5 separate regions of the Homo sapiens genome follow, and all the other regions are linked to region 1. Evidence: fine-mapped expression QTL. A gene starts in region 1. Each other region holds a variant in brackets. All regions are shown on one strand. Distances are from middle to middle.

Evidence for each region.
Region 2: its variant is fine-mapped to the expression of EDN1 in whole blood (TOPMed, PIP 0.99).
Region 3: its variant is fine-mapped to the expression of EDN1 in whole blood (TOPMed, PIP 0.92).
Region 4: its variant is fine-mapped to the expression of EDN1 in lymphoblastoid cells (TwinsUK, PIP 0.95).
Region 5: its variant is fine-mapped to the expression of EDN1 in whole blood (INTERVAL, PIP above 0.99).

What each region holds. Positions count from the first base shown.
Region 1 is chr6:12,287,998-12,293,105 of GRCh38, reverse strand. It overlaps EDN1 (endothelin 1), which reads right to left and starts at 2,745. Exons shown (of 5, transcript NM_001955.5): 1 at 2,413-2,745; 2 at 597-765. The coding sequence starts at 2,476. RefSeq lists enhancers at 2,813-2,882, 2,893-2,992, 4,136-4,636, 4,637-5,108.
Region 2 is chr6:12,163,019-12,168,126 of GRCh38, reverse strand. It overlaps HIVEP1 (HIVEP zinc finger 1), which reads right to left. Exons shown (of 9, transcript NM_002114.4): 9 at 3,128-4,844. The coding sequence ends at 3,666. Among named protein-coding and RNA genes, the nearest start is that of EDN1, 120 kb to the left of the region's middle. RefSeq lists enhancers at 3,441-3,941, 4,661-4,710, 4,771-4,830. The variant G/A (reference allele first, on the strand shown) is at 2,997.
Region 3 is chr6:12,238,698-12,243,805 of GRCh38, reverse strand. LOC124901260 (a long non-coding RNA gene) reads left to right here. Exons shown (of 3, transcript XR_007059454.1): 3 at 2,312-2,359. It also overlaps a transcript of EDN1 not described here. Among named protein-coding and RNA genes, the nearest start is that of EDN1, 49 kb to the left of the region's middle. The variant G/C (reference allele first, on the strand shown) is at 2,808.
Region 4 is chr6:12,336,610-12,341,717 of GRCh38, reverse strand. No RefSeq gene overlaps it. Among named protein-coding and RNA genes, the nearest start is that of EDN1, 49 kb to the right of the region's middle. The variant G/A (reference allele first, on the strand shown) is at 2,710.
Region 5 is chr6:12,249,525-12,254,632 of GRCh38, reverse strand. All of the region lies in intron 2 of LOC124901260 (a long non-coding RNA gene), which reads left to right. It also overlaps a transcript of EDN1 not described here. Among named protein-coding and RNA genes, the nearest start is that of EDN1, 38 kb to the left of the region's middle. The variant C/T (reference allele first, on the strand shown) is at 2,629.

The DNA.
Region 1 (5,108 bases):
GAAAGAGAAGCCTATGGACAGTATTTCTATTTCAGTTCTGAAATGGGCATTTCTAAAGGGAAAATATAGCAGCAAAGGAAATCCGGGCTCCAGTTCTAGCTCTGCTACAAACTCACTCCTGCACAAATGGCTTCAACACTTTGAGCCTAGGTTTTTCTGTAAGTAAAATTAAGTGATTCTAACCCTCTATATCATCACTTCTGCCTCTCAGTCTCCACCCTCCCATGAGAAGCACAGGTTGCACTAACCCACATCTGACCTCGGCAATTATTCCCGAAACCCCATCAGATGCCACTGTGAGAGTGTCCCCCTGAGGCCCTCTCACTGAAAGTTCCTCATTTGAAACGTGCAGTGGCCTCCTGCTTGTCCCATCATGAGTAGCCTGAGCTACGGGGCCTCAGAAGACCCTCCCCTTGGTTGCTAAGAACGAAGCTGTCGTTATTTTCAGGAATAGAGGGAAACTGTCCCCACTGAGGCACTTGGATGGTGTTAGAAGGACTACCTTCAGAGTCCCTAGAAAAGAAACTCTAAAACTGGGCTCCAGTGGAGCCAGCGCTAATGAATGACTAGGGTTACAATGCCCTCTAGAGACTTACTCGGGAGTGTTGACCCAAATGATGTCCAGGTGGCAGAAGTAGACACACTCTTTATCCATCAGGGACGAGCAGGAGCAGCGCTTGGACCGGCGGAGCCGCCAGGGTGGACTGGGAGTGGGTTTCTCCCCGCCGTTCTCACCCACCGCGCTGAGCTCAGCGCCTAAGACTGCTGGGGAGAGAAAGAGCAGGTCAGTGGGGGATGTCTCCTCAAACGCCGAGAGACATGCTGGATCACAGTAGAGTCAGAGCTAGCAGAGCAGATAAAAGCAGATGAAGCACACAGCCTGCCATCAGCAAGAAACACAGAAAAAAGGGCTCTTTATTTTTTTCCCTCCTTAACATGAGTTCACCTTTTGCCTCCCCCTCATGCCCTTGGCTTATCCACCTTCAGGGAGATTACACAAATGCAGAGGAGATAAACACCTGAAAAGGGACTTCCCCCACCCCTCTTGAAGCAGGCTCAGGGAAATGCTGTGGAATGCTGCCTGTTGAAAATCCGGCTGGCTTCTACAAGGAACTTGGTAGGACAGCACTATCCACTGAAGCTTACTTAACATTGGCACATGACTAAAGACAAGAAATCACAGTTATTCCTAGCTTTGGGGCCACTTCCCCATTCAGGATGACCCTCTCTTTAGGGGGTACCCATCCACTTCACATGCTGTGTAGGGCACAGGGTACCCCAGATGATGTATATCTTTCAAAATTAGGTGGGGAAAATGATTGGAGAGAGAAATTAACTATTCAATATTCAATTCAGGAGGGTAACTCCATAGAAACCAGTGACCTAAGGTGGGGCTGAGAAGCAGGTCAGGGGACTGAAGGTAGGCTGGGGGGATTTTGAATTCCGAATCCCTGGGCATCAGGCTTGTGTGGGATCCACTGCCTCCCCCTTCTCCACTACTGCCTTGCCTCTTCCTCCTAACAATTTAGCCATGCAGCTTATCTGCCCAATTTTGTACATTTCAAATGATCAGACACATTCCAGGATTTTCATTCCCTTGACATCCTTTCTCTTTAGTCAGGGTCACGAAAAGACAAAAAAAGTGCACTGACCCTAAAAACGGGGGGGACCCGGGCAGATGCACACGCACTGCCTAAATCCTTCGGCAGCCAAGAATTATCCTAGCTCCCCTCCCAGCACAGGTGAATAAAGCTGAAAAGAGAGCTCACACTGTTTTGGGTGCCAAAAACCTGCCAAAAGAAACCTAAAGTCAATGATGACAAATTTTAAAGAAAACATCTGCTTCACCCAGAAACCGCCTGCGGGGGGTGGTGGCGGGGGGGGGGGGAGGCGGTAGTTAGTCAACAGACTTTTGCTCTGCAGGTGATTTTACTGAACATACATTGCTTGAACGACTGGATACAATTCCTTGGCTTCAAGCTGGAATGCTTAAATATTTTACACGTTAACACACTATTAAAATAGTGTTTAAATAAGATTTAAGTTCCTATATGGCCTGTGTACCTGTATAAACACATATATTACAAACATACATTTGACTAAATTGTATATGTCCATACTCTTCTCATTTTTTAAAAGCCAAGGAAACACATAATGGAATAATAATAATAAAACGATAAGTTATTTTAATGTCATGTTATAGTCAATTGCACCTAATTGTATTCAATAGAGGAATTTTACATTTTACACTAGAAGACTTAAAGTAGCTTTCAGCAATAATTCTCAGACACTTGCTCTCTAAGCTGCAGTCATAAAAAGAACGGGGAAAAATAGAAGCAAGAAAAGCATGAAGGTGGATAAGAACACACTAACTTGTAATTCCGAGACTTACAAGTCAACGAGCGTGCCTACCTGTTTCTGGAGCTCCTTGGCAAGCCACAAACAGCAGAGAGAAAATCATGAGCAAATAATCCATTCTGAAAAAAAGGGATCAAAAACCTCCCGTTCAAACTGAACCCAAAGGAAAACGAAGAAAAACAGCTTCAGGTCCCTCAAAGCGCTGCGGGTTCCTCAGATCTCAAAGCGATCCTTCAGCCCAAGTGCCCTTTTAACGGGGAGAAAAGGCAGCGCCTGCCAGGAGAGAAGGCAGCGAGCGGAGCGTCTGCAGGCGCACGCGGCGGTGGAGAGCTGGGACTGCAGGAGGCGCAGGACCCGTTCGCCTGGCGCAGATGCAGAGGCGCGTCTGACTTGGACAGCTCTCTGCCGGCTTTTTATATTGAACCCCTATTAGAGTGGGGGTAAACAGCTCCGACTTTATTCCAGCCCCAGACAATGTTATTGTGTTATTAGTCACCAACAGGCAACGTGCAGCCGGAGATAAGGCCAGGCCCGAAAGGAAATCACTGCTAACTTCAGAGGCAGACGCCCGCCGTCTGACAATTCGGGGGCAGGGCTAAGAAAAAGAAAATACCCATTAGAGACCTTTGCTAAACCTGCCCGTGCAGTGCTGGAGTCCGCTTCCCCTTTGCAAGCTGCCAGCCCCGGAGTTCAAGAATCAGAAGAGGGGACTCCAGAAAAAAAGTCATACCATTGGTATGAAAAGTATGAGCCACAGTTTAAATAGATTGTATTGTTGTGTGCGGGGAATTTTTTTTAATTGTTGCTCGCTTCATTTTCCTTTTATGTCTCTCCGATTCTAGTCTCAGTCAAACAAGGGAATGCTCTCCCTCGTCACTGCCCCACTACTGGGGGTCAGACTATTTTGGCAGATCAACGTACTTTTCTCTTCAAGCCCCTTCCTGCGGGTCTTTTTTGCTGAAGTTCTTTGCATCTATCGGAGAAAGATCCGTGAGGGATTGGCAAGAAAGGGAGCTTAAAAATAACATCAGAGCTCGTTTAGGCACATGCCCAGTCTTTTCCCTATCACTGATGAGAAGCCCCGATAAGTTCTTTTGTGTGTCCACACTTCCCCTGCGGAGGAGGCTGATAAACTGATTGAAAAGCAAAGGTGTTTTTCACACAGAACTTAAATCTTAAGATTGGTCGGTGCCACCAATCTTAAGACATGGCGGGAGAAGAACACCAGGGGGAGATGAAGAGCTACAGGGGCTGATGTTTTACTAGGACAAAAAGGAAAACCCTTCTAAATGGCAGAAAAAAACGCAACCTGGCTTGGGGGCCGAGGAGGGTCAAGGAATGTTGCCTAACATAGGAAGGAGGAATGCACCTCAGAATATTCTATTTATTCCCCGCACAAGCAGGGACATATTTTCTGGGACTCTTTTTTTTGGGGGGGTGTCTTCATTTAGGGCAAAAAGGTGTTCTTGTACAAGGTTAAGTGAATATGCAAGGAAGGTGGTGCTGAGAAGGAAATGCCATTCGAACAAGGAATCAGATAATACTTCACATTTAATAATGTGTTTACATTTTCAAAACAATTTCCTGTCTATCTAACCTTGAAATCCCCCCCTGAAGTACACACAGGGCAGTTACTGTACAGGTGACATCATGCCTTAATAAAGAAAGCAAAAGGTGCATGGAACACATTGGCTTTTTCCGCTAGTCCCATTTTTCAGGTTAGACAACTGAGCACCCAGAATTTTTGTTTGTTCTCCACCAAAGCGCTCACAGTGGCCCAGTAAGACCTATGGGATAAATTTAGAGTCTCTTCCCAGGGGATGCCATCAAATACACACTTTGTCCATCTCCTCTTTTTGTTTTACTCCAGTTTTTCTGGGGATGGAGGGTGGAATTCAAGCACGGATGAATTTCCAAGACTGGCACAACACACATGCTGGGAAACCTTTTTTCCCTCCTCCTTCTAAAATCAAAAGGACAGTTTTTATCCCAACAGCAAAGCCGTGGGTTTGGACAGACTCAGATCCCCAGACCTCCCTCGAAGTCACAGCTGGGGGAACAGGGACAGTGGCAGCGACAGGTCCATAATGACATGCATCCTCTAAAAGAGCCACTGAAGCAAGAGTTGGAGATGGGAGAGAGAGAGGCAAGAACTCTCCCTCCCACACCCACACCCACACCCACACCCAGAGATGCCTCCACCCTATCCCCAGGGCCTCTGCCGGGGCCCCTGGCCTCCGCTGTGCGCTTACCTCAGCCTAGCCCCGGGGCCCAGGGAGGCCACAGCTCCCGGAGGACAGGCGGCACTGAGCCGGAAGCCAGCGCTGCCGCCTGTGCCAGGCAAGGGTGCCCTGACCTCCCTCTCCAAAGCCGACCTTGGGAGAGGAGAGGAGAGCTGATGTCACATTCACAGGTTCCAAGCAGCGCCTCCCCCCCAACACTCCCGCGGAAGAAAGGTGGCCTGGGAAATATGTCTTGGCAGGGACTCCCCCTACTTTTTTTTTTTTAACCTTTTGGCAACTTTGACCAAACACTGACAACAGTCAGGACCAACATGTTCTCAAGGCCCCTACCCGGAAACCACCGCCCATGCCCTCCCCAATATTCTCAGGTCCAGCCTGGGTTCTACTTCAGCTGGAGTCCCTTCTCCCACCCCACTCCACGCCACCCCACCTTGCTGAGGCTGCCCCTGCAGGTTCCAGCAACGCCCAGCCTTCAGGTGGAGAAGTGGGGCAAAATGAAACTGCCCA
Region 2 (5,108 bases), 120 kb after region 1:
TATGTATATATAATATACATATATACGTGTATGTGTATATATGTATATATACACATATATATGTATATATACACATATGTATATGTATATATAATATATACATATATACATGTACATGTATATATAATATATACATATATACATGTACATGTATATATAATATATACATATATACATGTACATGTATATATAATATACGCAGATATACATGTACATGTGTATATATTATATACGCACATCTATACATGTACATGTGTATATATTATATACGCACATCTATACATGTACATGTGTACATATTATATACGCACATCTATACATGTACATGTGTATATATTATATACGCACATCTACACATGTACATGTATATATTATACACGCACATATACACATGTATATATGTATATATATTATGCATATATGTATATATGTATATATATTATACACATATATGTATATATGTATATATAACATATATATGTATATGTATATATAACATGTATATATACATGTAATATAACATGTATATATACATGTAATATAACGTATATATAACATGCATGTAATATATACATATATTATATATATACAAATATATATTACAAAATACATATTTTGAATATTAAGTAGGAAATTTAGAATTTTAAGTCATGGGAAGTCACTTTGAGAGAAGATTCTTAAGGTGATATACATGCTGTATTTAGAATTTATAGATGGTTTTGAAACAAAATTAATGAAAATCATCTTTCTGGTATTATTTGAAGTTGACTGCAAAATGTAAGATGAAAAACAGAAAAGTCAAAAAGAACCCTGATGTTATAATTTGAACTGAGCATGAATCAAGATCTATTAACTATCTTGACAGTCTTCCAACAAAAATAATGATTATTTTCCATAATCCTTATTAACTGCTATCATTTAAAATTCAGGCCAGGGATTAATTAGTAAGAAACGTGTTACTTATACTGTTTCTGTGAAAGGAAAATCAGGTCTATATTATGAAAAATATAACTGAGAAACAAAATTTGTACATTCAATACCATCGGTTAATTATCATTTCGAAAGAAATAATTATCATTTTGGCTTAAAGTTTAGGGAATGAAAATAAGTTATTGGAACGCCCTCGATTTATGTTATAATACATTTTCATAAGCCAGATATAATAATCTTTAACTAGAAAAACGACCTGTGGTTCTTCAGCTGTTTTTTCCAGTACTTCTGATGATGGCATTGCAGTGGATTCACACAAGGTATTGAAATTGTTACACATTAAAACTTTCACCTGTTTTGTCAATAAATTATCTTACTATGTCATTGCACCCTAGTTCTCTACAGGCCTGGGTCTCCACACACGACAGTGCAACAGAATAAAAGTCAAATGTAGTCCCATTAGTTCTCCGAATTACATTATTTGGAAGTCGTTTATATTTGGGAGTATCAAGTGGACACTGCTCCTTGGGAAAAGACGACTTCGGAGAAATAGCACAAAATTATTGTTCCCTTGTCTATTTTGTGCATGTAATTTCAAAATATAATGGCTTAGACTTTGGTAATATTTTTTATAGAGCTGCATATTTCAAATACTAGCAAAATACTTGAAAGGCTACAATAAAGCTTGAAAGTTGCCAATAGTAAAGGTATTTGCACGATGCATTGAATTTTGAAAAGCCCAAAATAAGAATCTTGAAAAGTACAAAATAAGAGTAAGGTACATTACAGCATTATGAAAATTTCAAGGGAACATCCACTCACATCGTAACACTTGTCTTTAAGTATAGGAATTTTTTAAATTAAGAAAATTCTATAGAAACTAAAAAACCTCAATGCTAAAAACTCCAAGCATTATTTTTGAATTTAGAGAAGTCATCTGTACTTAATTATGGAGTTAAGAATATGCTTATTATACTGCTTTAAAATTTTAGGCAATAAAAAGTTCATGACACAGTTAAAACATTAATTTTGAGAAACTGGACAGAAAACAGACCTCATTTTCAACAGCTATTATTGATAGGGCAACGCAATCCCTAGAGCAGATATTTCCAGAATTCTTTCCAAAGCTATCTCAGAATATAAAAATGTAGTTTTATTGTTTTTGAGAGAATTTTGTTACTTAATCTATGGAAATATGTAAATGTAAATTGAAGCATTCATTTAAAGCATCACAGATCCACCAGTGCGTGCTGGGACTGCAGCACACCTTGGAGATCCTAATTGAGATAAGGATACGCAAGTTGAAATGCCAGGTCTTTGCAAAGTCACAGACGTGAAGCTGGGTTGGCTAGCAGCAGGTCTCCAAACCCCTTAGTAGATAGGCTGTCCCCTACCTCTCACCTCGCAAACCATGCTGTTGTCTTACTTATTTCATGTCTCTGCAATCTTTGTTAAGCAAGCCTTTAAAAATGTGAATACATTGACTTAATGATGTGCTAAGTATTTAAATTCCAACATTAAAATACTTTTCTCATAAACCTAGCATCTATAATCATTAATAATGCAAATCACTGCACTGGTAATTGGGGGCTCCCCATGCCGCCATATTTTCCTGAATAAGGATGGTTCAACCTTCCAGGACAGGAAATAGTAATGTCTAAAGAGAGTCACTTAAGTAATTTAGAAGTCTGAATTTGGCTCTTCGGTAATCTTGGACACTCTGTAGTTCAGTGCTGGACAGAGCTCTGTGAGTTTAACAGCATCAAGGGAAAGAAGAGCCCATAGCCCACGAATGGATCTGGTGTTGGAGCCTGGAAATGAGGTTATACGGGTCTCATCTGAGCCAAATTCTAAGGACAATGGGGTTTAACTCATGTTTCCCAGAAATTTCCATACCCTCATTTAGGAACGTTGCCCATTTTAGGCTATATGCTTTATGTATATACAGAAAGTATTCTTATATATTTAGTCTTCTAATAATAACTATGAAATGACTTCTCACAAATAAGAAAAATAGGTCAATCAGTTGTATGGATTTCAGTTACAGTTTCACATGGTAGAAAGGC[G/A]AGTAAAGTCTCTGTTTATAAAAAAAATGAAGGGTTGAGGGGAATGTGGAAAGAATGGAACCCAGGGCTATTTTCCAAATGCAGATCACTGATCACTGGATGATATAAAGAAGGCACAACTGAAGCAATGGTAAAGTCAGTAAACAATATTTTACTGAAACATTTCATAACACAGAAAATCTGTCTGAAGTGTAAAGTTACTGTCTTACACAAGGAGGACAGACCCATTTTCAAAGACTAATATGAATACAATAAATATGGAGTTTACATACTAATTTATACACAGAAACTCTGCCCCATAGCCATAAAATTTATATTCAACAGTGGAACATATAATTTAATCATTTGATTTATTTGACAGGTTTTCCTTACTAAACACAAATAACTACCTGGTTTTCATATACATATATAATATATTTTTATGTATATAGATATTCAACAATCTGTACAGTTTCTAAACATAAAGCTCCTAAAAGGCACAATTGTCTATACAACATGTACAAAAATGGCTGGAGCTGACACAAAACAACAATTATTGGTCAAAAGTTCATGATTGCACAAAGATTAGTCATGAGTTTATGTCAGAAAAATGTGCTTTAAGGAAAGGAGGGTTTTCAAAGAAACCTTTAAGTGTTATATAAAAAAAAAGCAAATAAAAAATAAAATCCATCAGGTTGCTATCACAAGCCTGTCCTCGTCATCATCGCTGCTCACGTCGCTGAAGTGCACAGTGGGCTGCCTCCGCGGTAGTGCTGTGGGCCTGGGAACCTGTCTGTCTGGAGAGAGAGTCTGCTGGCCTGAGGGCTTTGTAAAAACTTCAGAATGTGCCTTCAGCAGAGGTTGTGACGTGGACGCTGGTTGGCCCTGTATGGAAGTGAGTTCAGGCTTGGGCTTCACGTGATTTGCCGAGGCAGCCTTCTCTGTGTCCATTTTACTCAGGCCATCAAGCCTTGCATGGTCACCTGCAGGGGCAGGTGGATTCAGAACTTTTTTTGCATTTTCCCGCTGGACTGTAGGTAACCCCTGAGGAGACTCGGTCCTGCTGACCTGGTTTGCGCTGGCTACAGAAGTCTGCTTGGGTTGTGTCTCGCATGCTTTGCTTTGGGAAGCTGGCATTTCTGGAGCTCCCTGTGCATCAACGGCTACTTGACTGACTGAGGGGATTAAGGTGGGCAATGCTATGTTCAAGATCTGGAGACCTGGAATGTGTGCCTGAGGGGCGGGGCTGCTTTGTGATGAAGGGTTTGCAGTCAGAACCTGCAGTCCGACAGCATTCAGAGCCAGTCCTGGTGGATGGACTTGTGGGGCCATATTTGTATTGGCTAGGCCTACAATATTGACGGTTTCCATGCTTAACGAGGGGAGTGACTGCAAGCCTGGGGTACTTAGGTTCTGAAGGCCTGGCACGCGGATTTGGCCGATAGGAATACATGGCACAACACTGCTTAATTCAGCCACTCCAGCAGGGTTTGTAGTGCCAGACACTTCTGTGACCGTATTCCTATGAGTACCCAAAGTTCTGTGAACGACACTGACAGCAGGGATCGTGAGCTGCACTGGTCCAGCCTGAAGGGGCACAAACGTGGAGTATGTGAGGCCAGCAGGTACCACATGGATCCCCCCAACTGGAACCATATTATAAGGTGTCCTCGATTGCTGCTGGGAATGCAAAGGAAGGTGGCTAAACAAATGAGTGTGGGGAGAAGGCAAGCCTGGAGTCGGCTGTAGAGTTATTTGCTGCTTCTGTTCTTGAGGGTCAGGATGTGGTGAGGCCACAGAAGGCATCCCCGCTGCTGTCTGGGGGCTGTGCTCAGCTGCAGCAGGAGGAAGTCTTACAGATGATGGGCTCTAAATGACAAGAGAGAGCAATCCTTTTATGACAGGTCTTTTGTAATCACTGAGATATAAAGCTAGTGCTAAATCTATTTCTTCACAATGAGATAAAAGTAAGTATATTTGCATTGATAAAAATGATGTTTGCTGCAATGAAATTATTTTTCGATTTTTAAAAATAAGCTTCCAATTAAACAATTATTACATCTTTAATTTCGTTTCTGGTAGAAATAATGGCAATACATCTTGTATAGTCTTTTGCATGTCTGAAGCAAATTT
Region 3 (5,108 bases), 49 kb after region 1:
AAATTCGAATCACTATGGTACAGTTTACTCATCCACATGACAAATACATTAATTTCTTGCTAACTATAGGCTTTTGGGGATATAACTATAGATGAAATGTAATCTGCCTTCAAGTAGCTCATAGTTTATAAAACCATCAGAAAAGGAAATTCTTCTCACATTCATTTTATGTATGTATGTATTAATTCAGCATTCATGTATTTGTTTTGTCCCCTCTGAGCCAGGCACCAGTATAGACATTGGGTTGAAAGACACAGGACTTGTTAACCATGCTTGGAACTCACAGTCCTGAGTACAGATAGGAATACAGTTGACCCTTGAATAACATGGGTTGAACTGTGCAGATCCACTTGCACAAGGATTTTCATTAATAATAGTTACCCCCAGTGTGCCTGCCTCTCCTGCCTCCCTCCCACCTCCTCCACCTCTTCCACCTCTGCCGCCCCTGAGACATCAAGACCAGCCCCTCCTCCTCCTCCTCTCCTCCTCCTCCTCCTCCTCTCCTCCTCCTCCTCCTCTTTACTCAATGTGAGGACATCACGGATGAAGCCCTTTAAGATGATCCACTTCCACTTACTGAATAGCAAATATATTTTCTCTTCTTTATGATTTTTTAAATAACATTTTCTTTTCTTAACTTACTTTATCATAAGAATACAGTATATAATACATATAACATACAAAATGGGTGTTAATTGGCTGTTTATGTTATCACTAAGGTTTCTGGTCAACAGCGGGTTATTACTAGTTAAGTTTTTGGGGAATCAAAAGTTATCTGTGGATTTTTGACTGCAAGGAGAGTTGGTGCCCCCATCCCTGGAGCTGCCTAAGAGTCAACTGTAATTATACAAATGAATACTCTAGCATAATTCTAAGTGCTCAGGAGGGTAGGTACAAAACTCCTTGAGTGATATCACAGAGACCTGAACCCAGCCTGGAGAACAGAAACAGCCTTCATGAGAATCATAATGGTTAATAGAGAGCATTCCAACTGGAAGAAATATTATATACAGGCCATGAGGAGGGCTGGAGAAACAGAAAGGTCAGTGTAGTCAAAGCATGTTCAGCCAAGGAGGAGCCAGAGGGACCTGGCAAGGTGAGCAGCGATCCAAAGCCACCTACCCAGGGAGCAGCAAGGCTGAGATCCAAACAAGGATCTACCTCATCCCAGTGTGTAACTAGCACCTCACTATCTCCCCTCAAAAAATAAATTACGCCACATACCATGGGATATACTTTATAAACACATTTGCATGTGCCACTCACAGCAACCTTATAAGGTAGGTCCATATAGAGACCTATTTTATAGAGGAAATGACTGAGGCACAGAGAGGTAAAATAACTTTCCCAGGGCTACACAGTCACAAAGTAGCAGAGGCAGAATTGGAGCTCAAGCAGTTGGCTTGAGAGGTCACACTCTTCAGAGGTCACTACTCACTCCACCACCTTCTAGTCCACACAATTACTGGGTGGTAGACCTGGTCCTTGCAATCAGGCGAGTCAAATCTCTCTACCACTTTTCAGCATGACCATTCTCATTCCCTGCGTTAGAAATTAGCCTAGAGAGAACTGGTTGTAAAATCACACTGACTGTTGGGCGACACCCTCAAATCCCTAGAGACTGCACACCTCCAGAAAGCCTTTGGTATCGATGGTCAAGGAATTCCCAGGCTGCTTCCTGGGTCTCACCTGAAGTGAAACAGCTTTGCAGCAAAGAGGAATATGCTGTTGAGGAAATTCTTTCAAAGCTGAATCTCTTCCTTCCTCATTCCAGATAAATTGCATTAATGCATAGCCTATTACCTAACGGGGTTATGGTTTAACTTCCTTCCCCCAAGCCTTTTATGGGAATGCAGTAAAGATGGGTGCAGCCTGCACAGCATGGGCTTGACTCTTTCAAAAGAAATTCCCACCATCACACCCTTGTTCTCCTTGGTTTATTGAGTTTAAATTTGTAGGAGGCAAGTATGTTGATGCAATTTGCAAAAGTTACTGAAGATAAACCACCTACTAGAGAATGCAAGAGACTGGAAACAATGATTGAGTCTCCAAAAAAAGTGTTACTCATAGGATCATCTTCTATGAACATGAGTAAGAGAAGAAAACCATAAGCTGGTTTCAATTCTAAATACATTTAATTTCCAAAAGCAAAGGTGAGCAATTATGTATTCCACTTACCATAGAGCAATGGGCCACCTCATCAGACAAAAACACAGACCCGTACTTTTTTTGCAAATAACTTTTATGAAGCTAGTGCTGGGCCTATAAAAACCCAGTTGTACTAATACCTCCCTCTTTTCCTCTCCTTGAGCCATCTCTCCCACCAAGATCTCCAAAGATGCCTGCTTATAAAAGTGTGTCCTTCCCAGCACTTTGGGAGGCTGAGGCGGGCAGATCACCTGAGGTCAGGAGTTCAAGACCAGCCTGGCCAACATGGAGAAACCAAAACCCGGTCTCTACTAAAAATACAAAAATTAGCCGGGTGTGGGGTGCACACCTGTAATAACAGCTACTCAGGAGGCTGAGGCAGGAGAATCGCTTGAACCCAGGAGGCAGAGGTTGCGGTGAGCCAAGATCACACCACTGTACTCCAGCCTGAGTGACAGAGTGAGACTCCATCTCAATAAAAAAAAAAAAAAGAAAGAAAGAAAGAAAAGAAAAAAAAGTGCATCCTAAGGTTCCCACAGTGTAAATGTCTTCCAAGAGCAGTAAGGATTGGGTTCAGCTGAGAGTGACTGAAAATTCAAAATCTAAGTGGCTTTAAGGGAATAAAAATTTGCACACTCATCTGAATGTAAATGATCCAG[G/C]GCTGGCATAATGGCTCCACCATGCTTAGAAGGTCCAGTGCTTTCTACCTTGATGTTCCATCTCCCTCAGCACACAGCAGGATCAACACCAGCCATCACATCTGTGTTCCAGGCAGCAGGATGCAAAAAAGAGACAAGATAAAGCCACATGATCTCCCATTAAAGACAATTCCTGGGAGTTGTACACCACTGCTCTTTATAGTCCTTGGTTCTTTCAGGTTCACAGAACCTAAGGGATAATAGATATTGAAAGACAGCTATGTCTCCCCTTTGGCCACCCATGTATCTCAGTGTACCCTTATTTCCATGTTTGAAATGTACTCAACCCCTGTACTCCCAGATAAAGAATCCCAGAGTTCCACCAAATTCATGCATCTGGTTCTAAGTCCAGGATTTTCAGGTACTATTCCATGCTCTTTATCAGGTCTGAGTGTAACTACTCATTTTCAGGGGCCCTACAAAATAGAAATGTAAGTTACCTAATACAACACACCTACAAGTCCAATAAGAACAGGACAAACTTTATATAAACAAACATTTCTCCCACTCAGAAAAATTAAAAACTGAGAATCACATAATAGTTCCTTATCTCTAAATATTATCAGATCCCACTGGGCAGAAAGAGAAAACAAAATCATGAGAGTCAGCTGGACTCTCACCTGCTCACTGGGCAAAACTTCTTCATTCACTGCCGCCTGTGGGTTTTCTCTCCCTTTAGGAAATGTTTCCCAGCTCATAATACTCCCAAGTGCGCGCCTTTCTTAAAGCCTTCACAGCTTTCACAGCCTTCCTGCTGGCTGTCTGGGAAAGGTGGTCACCTTAGGTATTGAATGGTCAAAGGCTTTTGCAGTCTAGACTGCTGGTCTCTTTGTCAATACAAAATTTCATGGCATCTGGCCTACCTGAATTCTACCAATTCTGCCTATAAGCAATCAGAATGATGATGTCTGAACATGGATTTTATCCATAATACCTTTGCTTTTATTTTACTTTATAACCTCTGTTCCACCAAATCCTCTCTCTCACTCAACCTACACTCCTTTTATCATGCTATTCTATTTTCTTTCTTTTTCCTTTTCTGTTTTTGTTTTTTGTTTTCTGTTTTTGAGACACCCAGGCTGAAGTGCCATGTTGCAATCTCAGATCACTACAACCTCTGCCTTCTGGGCTCAAGTGATTCTCCTGCCTTAGCCTCCTGAATAGCTGGGACCACAGGCACACACCACCATGCCCAGCTAATTTTTGTATTTTTTGTAGAGACCAGGTCTCCCTATGTTGCCCAAGCTGATCTCAAACTCCTGGGCTCAAGCAATTCTCCTGCCTCAGCCTCCCAAAGTGCTGGGATTAGAGGTGCGAGTCACTGCACCAGGCCTGTTCCCTCTATTTTCAACAGAGGATTTTTACTTTATGGTCCAAAATGGTTCTTCTAGCTTAAGCCATCATATTTAAGTTATTGCAGGTAGGGATGAGAAAAGAGGCAGGAGAAGGGCCTACCCCTACCCCTAAAAGATAGATCCTGGAGCCTTACACATTTCTTTTGTTTATATCCATTGACCAAAGTGTAGTCACTTGGCCGTATCTGCTGGAAGGCGGTCAAGAAAATGTAATTTCTTTTAGGTGGCCATGACCTAGCTAGCATTTTGAGGCTTTATTATAGAGTCAGAAAAAGGAACAAGAACATCCAAGTATAATTAGCAATCCTATTATGTTAACATGTGTATTTTTAAATGGGTTTATGGAGACAGACAATTACTATGGAGAGTGTAATATACATCACAGCCAGAAAGGAACACGAATGATTGAGGCAACATTCTCCAAGCAATGCTGCTTATCTCATTTGCCCTGTGACAACTCTGGGCCCAGAATTGTCACAGAACCCAGAACTGAGGTTCTTCAGTCAACTTGTAATGAGGCCCACTGTGTGCCAGGAACTGGGTATTCACAGGACTTGCTGAAAGTCTGCCTAATTTATACTGAAGAAGTTGCTATAAGTTGGAATTTTATTCCAATAACTAAAAGATCCATTGAGAAGAGCTAAACTCACCCAACTGATATAACACATGCAGTTTTTCAAACAATTGGCGTCAGTGCTGTATATATTTATACACCAATCCAGAAATAATCTACCGTATGGTTCTCATGTAATTTCTAATTCATCTTCACTGGGAAATTGGGATGCCTTTGGTCAAGAGGAGCTAAAGGAAATGCTTGGTTGCACAGCCTGCCTGGGTCCTATTCTTTCACTTTCCTCTTTGATTTTGATTTTGTGGCTACAATGGTGGTTTTCTTGCATCAGCTTAC
Region 4 (5,108 bases), 49 kb before region 1:
ATCTCAGCCATTCCAGTGCCTGCTGCAGAGACGCTTAATGTGGAATGAATGAATGAATGAATGAATGAACATTTTAATTTATGAAAGCAGACTTAGGGAAATGTCTGTGAAGACAAGCAGTCTTCACAGCTTCATCCCGGTGACAGTGGAGGGAGGGGCGGAGGGGAGAGAGGTGCTATGGGCTGCTTGTTTACAGACCACATGTTTAAGCCTCAGGCTTTTTTAGTGCCCGCTGCACTAAAACAGGGCAGATACAGCTTCTCCAGGCCAGCTTCTCCAAGTCTTTCCAGCATCTCTGCCTGTCTCGCTCTACTTGCTAAAGCTACAATTGGCTTTGCCTGCCCCGTTGGCGGGAAGGGTGGGAAAGACTTTAGTTTAGAAACAAGTTGTTAGTGACAGAGCCTTTTCTAATGCCGCTGACAGCGTCCCTCAAATGAAGCACTTCTTCTTCATGCTGAATGCGTTTGTGTTATCTGTAGGGGAATTTTGAGTTGGTGTTTTTGCCATTTTTCTTCTTAAATTTCATTCATTTAATTAAGGTATAATTTAGATACTATGAAATGCACGGATCTTAGTGTTATAATTCAACGCATTTTGACAAATGCATACACCAGTGTAAACTTACACCCCTAATATATCTGCCATCCCAGAAAGTTCCCTCGTGTCCCCTCCCTATCTCCACTGTAGGATAATTTTGTAAAAGTAAAAAAATGAAGTGTTGGCTGCGATGCCATTTGTGCACTAGTCAAAGCAGACTGGCTTTATGTGAGTGAAATCATTAGAAATCAACACAATAAATTACTTGATCCAGTACTAAGTGTTTTAACTTGACATGGATTTAGAGAAAAGAAATGCATTAAATGCATTAAAATGTCATCTGGGGTGCTGTTAGAAATTCGGATAAGTGAGCCCACCGCAGCACCATTAAGTCAGAATTTCTTGGCATGGCATCCAGGAATACATATTTTCAATAAAAGTCCCCAGGAATTCCAACGTGGAGTAGGGGCAGGAGGTGACACCAACGACGCTGTTGGTGTGGAGACCAAAATGGTCTGTTATGACTGGACAGAGATAATCATTGATCGATGGGGAAACAGAGTGCCAGAGAAGTATAGTGGCTTGTTCAAGGCCACGCAGGGAATTCATGTTGTGGCTTGCATTTCTGGGAGGGCAATAGGAAAGGCTGGGATCACAGTCATCCACAATGGCCCAGAAAACTATTTGCCCCTGAGTTGTTCGTAGAGGTGACCAGAACCCAGGGCCAGACCCAGGCCTCTACTGCCTCCCTCACCCCGTCCTGCTCAACAGTTCTGGAGGCCACATAGGGAAGGGACTCTGCGTCTGATGGAAAGCAAGAAAGGAAAGCACTGTTTATGCCCTCCAGCATTCAGCTCCACAGACCCACAGCCCTGAGGATTCACTGGTGACATTATAATCTGCCCCCATCCCAACTCTTCTCCTCTTGACAATGTACTCTAAGAGACTGAACTGCTTTGGTGCGGTGTGTGGGGGTGGGTGGCAGGCAGGCTTACCACTGACAGGGATAGGTCAGTGCAGGCAATTTATCACCCAGTGGAACTCCTCCTTCCCATCTGCCAAATACACAAATAAATCAGGCATCAGAGCGACACCACTGGCGAACGGTCCCGGTGGGACCACATCCAGCCGCCCAGCCTCCCCGGCTCCACTGCCACTCAGGCAGTGTTTTGGTGGCACCTCAAGCAGAACTGTCCTTTCTTTCCCCACCCAGACAAACCCAAACAGTTGAGAAATAATCAGAATGAACTGGTGTCCTGATGAACCTTTGATCTTCCCGAGTGTCAGTGTCCAGCCAGTGTGTGAGGCTCCCATTGAGGAGGCTGCAGAGTGAGGCGGAAAGTCAGTAGTGTTCAGAAAAGCATGGAGTCTTTTTAGCACTCTGTCCCTGTCCCCTCCACAAAAGATAGCACTGGATGACCAGAGCCCACTGGCCAGCTTAGAGGGACACCAGCGTCAGAATCCAAGGGAAGACAAGACTTCGGAGCAGGCAAGAGGACCTGCCCTCTGCCCCAGGTGAGGGCTATGACTTGAATCATAGGCATTTACCACGGCAGGGGGCCATCAGCCTCTAGCCTCTACCTGGCTGCTCTCACAGCCCCTGACAATGTCTGCCACTCCCAATATGAATTAGCGAGATGGGCTTCCATGCAGGGTCCCCAGATTTGCCCCAGTAATGCCTGAGGAGCCCGTGGGAGAGGAGGCAGATGAAGTCTCAAGAGCACTGGGGCCCCTCTCTTGATTCTGTTGGGATTCTGCTGCCCCAAGAGCCTGGCTAAGCCACTTTAATCTCTGGGCTTTGGTTTCCTTATTTGTAAAATGTAGGGGTCAAATTAAGGTGTCTTTCAGTTCACTCCCAACATTATGGGTTTCAGTCTACCCCTCCCAAACCAAGAACCTTGAATTTGTTTCGATATATTTTATTTCCTATTGGGTGCAGATCTATTGGGCACACAGCCGAGATGGGCAAAGGTCTAGCAATCATTCCGGGTAGGAAGGCAGACACCTGTGTGTAAGATTCTTAATGGTAGAGCTCTTTCCTTATTTATCTTTGCATCCTTAGGACAAAATAGGTGTTCAGTAAGTTCTTGTAACATGAATGTGCAACTCATATAAAAACCAGGGCTCCATTTGGCCTATTCCTGACTTGCTCTCTTATTCAGAGAAACACTG[G/A]GTATCCACGAACAAATATTTAAAACTCATTGCAATTATTATGGTGTCTCTTGAGAAACTTCTAGGGAGGATCTATGTACACGCCTCAGAAACCCTTCTTAAAATCCCTGCCCTCTTTTCTCCAGCTATCTTCCACCTGCTGCGGTTCAGGAACCTCTTACACTTTAAACATGCATTCTCAACTTACTTTTCCCCATTTTATGTCACAAAAGCCGGGTGTGAACCAACAAAAGACTACATTTCCCTTCCAGGCATGGGAAGTAGGAGCAAAGACAAAATTGTTCTCAGCAGACCATGGCTAAAGGGGGGAACACCACAAGAGGAAAGAGAACGAAGCCCTATTTATTAACTTTATCATGAGTAAGTGCTGTGTGCATGAAGGCATGTTGGAATGCTGTCTGCATCATCAGCTTTGCAGATCAGTTTCCCACACATCCACAGTTTTTTGTTTTTTGTGTGTATTTTTGAGATGGAGTCTCACTCTGTTGCCCAGGCTGGAGTGCAGTGGTGAGATCTAGGCTCATTGCAAGCTCTGCCTCCTGGGTTCACGCCATTCTCCTGCCTCAGCCTCCTGAACTGCTGGGACTACAGGTGCCTGCCACCTCGCCTGGCTAATTTTTTTTCTTTTTTGTATTTTTAGTAGAGATAGGGTTTCACCGTGTTAGCCAGGATGGTCTCGATCTCCTGATCTCGTGATCCACCCAACTCGGCCTCCCAAAGTGCTGGGATTACAGGCGTGAGCCACCACGCCCAGCCAAACATCCACAGTTTTGAAGGAGTCACCTAGGTGATCTGATTTCAGGAGTCAGATAGTGTCCACTGCCTCCCGTTATTGTAAATACGGTCAGATGCCACGTGATATTTCAGTCAATGCTGACCGCATACACGAGAGTCCTGTGAGATCCTCATACTGTATTTTTACCGTACCTTTTCTCTGTCTAGATACACAAATCCTTAACACGGTGTTCTAATTGCCTACAGTATTGCCTATATACCGTAGTAATGTAAGTGTAAATAGCAGGTACATTCTGTGTTGATTGCATGACAATGAAATCACCGCTGGACAAATTTCTCAGAACGTGTGTCTATCCTTAAGCGACACGTGAATGTATGTACTTTCATTGCTTTAAACTCAGAGGTTTTGGACCTTGTCAGTCAATTAGCACCAGAAGCAAGTGGTGGTAACTCTCTGTGTGACCTTAGGCTGTCATCCATCTTGCCCATGCTTCTGTTAAATTGAGAGGGTAAAGAAGTGTTAAGCGCCGGGCGCGGTGGCTCATGCCCGTAATCCCAGCACTTTGGGAGGCCGAGGCGGACGGATCACGAGGTCAAGAGATCGAGACCGTCCTGGCTAACACGGTGAAACCCCGTCTCTACTAAAAATACAGAAAATTTGCCAGGTGTGCTGGCGGGCGCCTGTAGTCCCAGCTACTCGGGAGGCTGAGGCAGGAGAATGGCGCGAACCCAGGAGGCGGAGCTTGCAATGAGCCTATATCTCATTGTCTCCAGCCTGGGCGACAGAGCGAGACTCCTTCTCAAAAAAAAAAAAAAAAAAAAAAAAAAAAAAAAAAAAAAAAGAAGTGTTAAGCAATGATTCTGCCACAGTGGGTTGGAAGAACGGGCTTGGGAGAGTTTTTAACTCCTTTACTTCCAGCCCACTCCTCCATTAAATAGAGATAATCAGGAATATTATGAGGTTTAAATAAAATTATAAAATACAAGCCAGGTGTGGTGGCTCACGCCTGTAATCCCAGCACTTTGGGAGGCCGAGGTGGGCGGATCACCTGAGGTTAGGAGTTCGAGACCAGCCTGACCAACATGGAGATACCCTGTCTCTACTAAAAATACCAAAAATTAGCCAGGCTTGGTGGCGCATGCCTGTAATCCCAGCTCTTCGGGAGGCTGAGGCAGGAGAATCACTAGAACCCAGGAGGCGGAGGTTGCAGTGAGCTGAGATCGCGCCATTGCACTCCAGCCTGGGCAACAAGAGCGAAACTCCGTCTCAAAAAAACAAAAACAAAAAACAAACAAACAAAAATACAAAATCATAGCAAAAGTCTTGGCCCATAGCAAGCATCTGATAAATGTTAGTTATTATTAATATTGTAATTCTCTAGTGTTTCTTTGAGCTTGAATAGCCCACAAATCTCTGAGTGTTGTTTGACTCAAACCAGGAGCTACCTAGGTGAAGAAGTTAAGTGAAACCAGCATGGGTAGCCAGAGTTGTCATTTGAGTGTCTGGAATGAAAAGGGCCTCATCAGTGCTTGCTTACGTAATTCATCAATTGAGAGGAGAAAATATATAAAATAGAACTACACAAGAGGAAATAAACATTCAACAGTAAATTAGTACTGGAGGAGTTCCCTATTTCACCTGTTAAAAGACCAATTTTCCCTGC
Region 5 (5,108 bases), 38 kb after region 1:
TTATTTTTCTCTTTTCCAAATTCTTAGGTTGCATTCTTACTTCTTTTTAAATAATATTTCTCATTTAATATTAAAACCCCTTCTGGATAGATCTTTGTCCTGGGGATATGGTCCACAGCTTTATGGGGTTTACAATCTGGTGTGGACTCCAGACATATCAACAGGCTGTTATAATCAAGTGGAAAGGTACTATGATAGGGGAAGTTCAAGGTTCTATTGGAACACTCAGAATAGGAACTCGACCAGATTTGGCAGAGTGGAGAGTGAGGAAAGGTTTACAAGGAGAAGTGGTGTCTAAACTCAATAGGAATTGGCCAGGCAAAGGGAGACGGAAGAAGAGCGGGTACCAGGCAGAGGGAAACACCCTCAAGGTGAGAAAGCGGCTGACCCAGTATTTGGGAATTGCAAATGCTCACGTGGCTGGATATAAAAAGCAACAAATGAGATACCAGCCTGGAGAGATAATCAACAGTTAAACTACAGAGGGTGACATTAAGGAGTTCTGGACAATGGGATGCCAAAGGTGTTTTACACAGAATAATGTTATAATCAGATGGGTAGACTGAAAGATAGTTTGGAGCTCCCCATGGATAGTAGATTTGATGAAAACAAGCAGGAGGCAAGGGAACCAGTTAGAGGGTTGAGGTAGAAGGCCAGGTAAGAGATGATGGTGTTCTAAATGAGCAAAATGTCAGAAAGCACAAAGGGAAGGAGATGGATTGAGATGTATTTAGGAGGTAGAAAAACAAAACGTCACGGGCGGTAGATTGGGTGTGCGCAGGGACAGAGGAGTAAAGAATGATGCCCAGGTTTTTGGCCTGGCTTTGGGGGCAGTAGGACAATACCCTCACTTAGAGAGGCAAGAGCAGAAACTGAGTCAGATGAAGAATAAGAAGATGGACTTTGAATGTGTTGACTTTTATTATTAGTAGTAGTAGTATGAGTTATTCTTTTTGTCCTATTTAATGCTGTTCCCTTTGACTTCTATTTTGTCTAAGCAATAATTTTTCTACCCTACATTTTGTGTGTGCACATGTGTGTGTAAATTCCTGGAAATTAAAGTCTTTTCTTCCTCTTCTACATAAGCTAAAATATTTATCCCTTTTTCACTCACTTTTTCTATCCTTTTATATCCATATGCTAGTTTTTGCTATTAAGACTTGAGGTATTATGTGATTTCATACTATGCATTTTTTGTATCTTGTTTATTTTCTGATTCTCCTGTAGAATATAGGCTTTATAAAGGCAGACTTTGCATTCTGCTTAATTTTTGTCTGTTTAATTTACTGTTGTAATCTCATTGACTAGAATGCTGTCTAGCATATAGGAGGGGGTCTGATAAATATTACTGAAAAAGTGATTATTTTTTCATTATGTATCTTCTCTCTCCCTTTTTTGACAGTTGCATGCATCTTTCAAATTGCTAATTTCATTGCTCATTGGGAGTCTGTTTCTAACTCAATTTAAGCTCTTCATTTTATGAAAATCTTGGCAGGCTATAGAATGTGTTCAAGCATTTTTTCCTTTGAGTGTGTGGGGTTATATTTTATGGTCCTCGCCACAAAGAATAAACATAGATTATAGTTTGGTCACAAACTTTTCCCCTATAATTCTGTTAGTTGCTTCATTGTCTTTGGCATGTAGAGTTTTAAAGAACTCCTCTGAGGTTAGTTGGATTTCAGTTTCTTCATAGGTGATTTCCTCTACCTCTCCTCTTCCTCTTCTTCTTTTTCTTCTTTTTCAATACAGGTTGGATATTTTTATCTTTATCTTCTAACTTTATAATTACTTGTTCCTCAAGGACAAATTTATTCATCTTTGTATACCTAGTATCTTGCAGAGCACGTGGCTTATAGTGAGTAGGGAGTGAACACTGCATGAATACACACATGAAAAAAAAGACATAAATGAAGTTCATGCAAACTTAACTATTCTTTCTCTACTTTTCTGTCAATCCCAAATTTAACTGGCATTGGTGTGGCTTAAGAGAAGTCAGGCCCCCACCTTGCGTTCCTGCAGAATTATCAAGTCCTGAAAGTTCTGGAGAGCCAACGTGAACATGCAGGATGCTTCACCACTATTGGCATCCAACCCAAATTGAACCCTTCTTTCAATATCTTTATTATCTAGCAAGCTGCAGAACCCTACTTCATAATGCTCAATTCTTTTTATATTGGACAGTTAACATGGCAAGGGACAGAAATGGAACCTAAATTTTTATTTCGTTTGTGTTTTGTATGAAACAAAAGCACTGTCAAAGACACAAATCATGTATGAAATTAAAACCTCAGTTTTGTTCTTTTCTTTATCCTCTTTCCTTGACTACCTCAAAGCTGGTTTCTGCAAGTAGCAACAGAGTCCTATTAGAACTTCAGCAGCAATGATTTATGTTTATGTAATATACCAAGAACTCTTACATTAGACCCAGATTTTAGTAAATGAAATGGAGAACAAAGCAAATTGAATCCAAGTCCAGCAATATCTAAAAGGTATATCGATTTGGCCTAATATAAATGCAGAAACCTAAAAGGATGCTGTTAATTACATCCTTACACATACACATTTATACAAAAGTGCTATCAAGCAAAAGGAACTTGCTGCCCAATGTTCTAGAATCCAATAATATAA[C/T]ACCAAGTTTTTGAGAAAGAAAAGCTATTTATTGCAAGTTGACTTACAAGGAGATATGAGTCAAGCTCAGATCCATCTCTCTGTGCTGGTTTTAAGGCAATACTTTTACTAGAAAAGGTTTAAGAGGGTGGATTCTGAGATTAGCAGGTAATTGGTGGGAGGAAAGGAGAGGTCTGAAAGACCCTCAGGCACGCACAGTCATCCCTTTGTGCTTCCTTATAGGTCCCATGTGCAAATTTGGGGAGGAGTTAATATAAAACGTGCAGTGGAAATCCAGGCTGTGACATCAGCAAGCTTGTTCTGTGCAAACTCCAGCTGGCCGTATCGGTTCGAAAAGATTTCAGCCAGTTTTGTTGTCTTACAAGTGGAGGGAGTTTTAGTGTTTCAGGAAGCTGTTTCTTGTTTTTAATCTGACATCCTGCAAACCCAAGAATTTATATGAGTTATTGGTTTCTTTAACTTTTGGGGCACGTTTCACAAGTAAATATAAAATGCACTTCTATCAGGGTCACCTAAGAGTGTGCTCATTTTAGACACTTGTAATGTCTTCTTGGAAATTTAGGAGACAGAAATAGCAAGTATTCCTTCTTGAATGACACCTCAAGTTTGATGAGATATCATTCACATTGATTCACGTTAAATAGTGTGCCAACTGGCTTTACTTGCTTTATTGATTTTTAGCAAGATCTATGTCACTTATTGCTTTCATTGTGTAAGTCTTTCCAATATTCCAGCTAAAGAGTTGTCTACCATTAATCTCTTCATTCTGTTAAACAGTAAAATAACTTATTAGTTAATTAGCTTTTTGGGGTATGGCTTAAGTTATCTTTGGTCTTTTGCTTTATTTGGATTTTAATATCCTTTCAGTTATGAATGAGTGTTGTGATATATCCTTTATCAGTATCCCTAGGTACAGCAGCTAAGGTGGTATCTCCTCTAATAGTCCTTTATTTTATACTTGCCATAATTTTAGAGGCAATTTCCTTAGCAAACCTTTCAGTCTCAGGAAGCATGGCATCATCTGTGTTGCATCAGTTAAGCAGAAATGACTTGTTGGATTTGATTATGCATTTGAATAGTATTAGAGGCAATTAATGTGTGGATAACCTCCAGTTGTTATATACAAAGATGCCAAGAGGCACTCAAAATTTGGGCTTAGGGAGTCCTTGACTTACCCAACAAAGAGAGTAATTGATTTTGTTATTTAACTCCCATCTCCTAAAGGGATATCTTTTGAAAGAAACCTTTAAAAGGAATGCTATTTTTTTTCTTAAAAGTGTATTTTTATGGTGCGATAAAAATTGTAGACAAGGAGAGTTAATGTGCTCCTAATTGCCAAATTTTAAATTTCAAATCTTTTTTCCTTTATAAACAAGTTACAAAGTTTGCTCAGATATAGGCATGAACAGGCATTTCCCCAGATTATGCAACATGGAATTTTTTCAAAACTCAATCTTACACAGAATTTCTCCCACAAAGCATAACAAACTCTTAGCAATCCTGAAAATTTCTACTCATTGATAGTGATAAGAAGACAAGAAATTTTGAATAATATTGGCAAATAATTGAAATAAATGGATTCTGAAGATACCTTCTTCAAGGCAATTATCCTGCAAAACCTTTAGCTATTCTTACCAGTGGCAACAGTGAAAGATAAAGAATTTATTGACAGAGTATCAATTCCATGGTCAAGTCTAACTAAAACAGAAAAAACAAAGGACAAATCATCAAAATACAAAAAAGTGCATCTTTTTAATCTAACTTAGGCCATTAACCACAAATATGACATCATATATTTTCCAGCAGTCAGTGAACACTTTTTTGTAACTCTGTAAATTTGATTTATCTTGTATGCTTCTGAGGGATCAGGTTACATAAGAGTGCATGGGTCAGGAATATTTTTCTTAAAGTCAAAAATGCTCTTGAATCTTAATTTTACTTTATTATAACCCCTTACATAATCCACATACATATGCGTGTGTGTATATGTACATTTCCACATATGCCAAAAGTGTTCAAAAAGTTGTTTCAAATAGAAGTTTTAACTTCCCCTTGATGCCAGGGAATTTGCTTGTTTCACTCACAGGTGAGCGTGGTTCTGGCAGTCTCTGGTGTCTGGAGAGAAAAAGGTAGGATCTAAACAACTTCCAACCAACCCTGAGGGGGTCAGAGAGGTATAATCAGCAGTAGGACTGTCGTAAATCACAATGAAGTAAATGATAACACACCCATAGGCTTACCATGCCTTGCAAATAAGGACTCTGGCTTTGCCAGCTCTTACCAAACTCGTTAATGCCTTTCCTTCACTCCAGGATGTACACAGCCATAAAATGATGAAATGAACCTTCCTTATCATATCCTATAGCACTTGTTTGCCCCAGGTGAGCAGCTATTTACAATGGAGCTGTGTTGCTGGGCTCAGATCACCCTTGCTTTCTCTCTGGCTCTGACACCATAAACTTTGTCTTGTCTCAATGCAT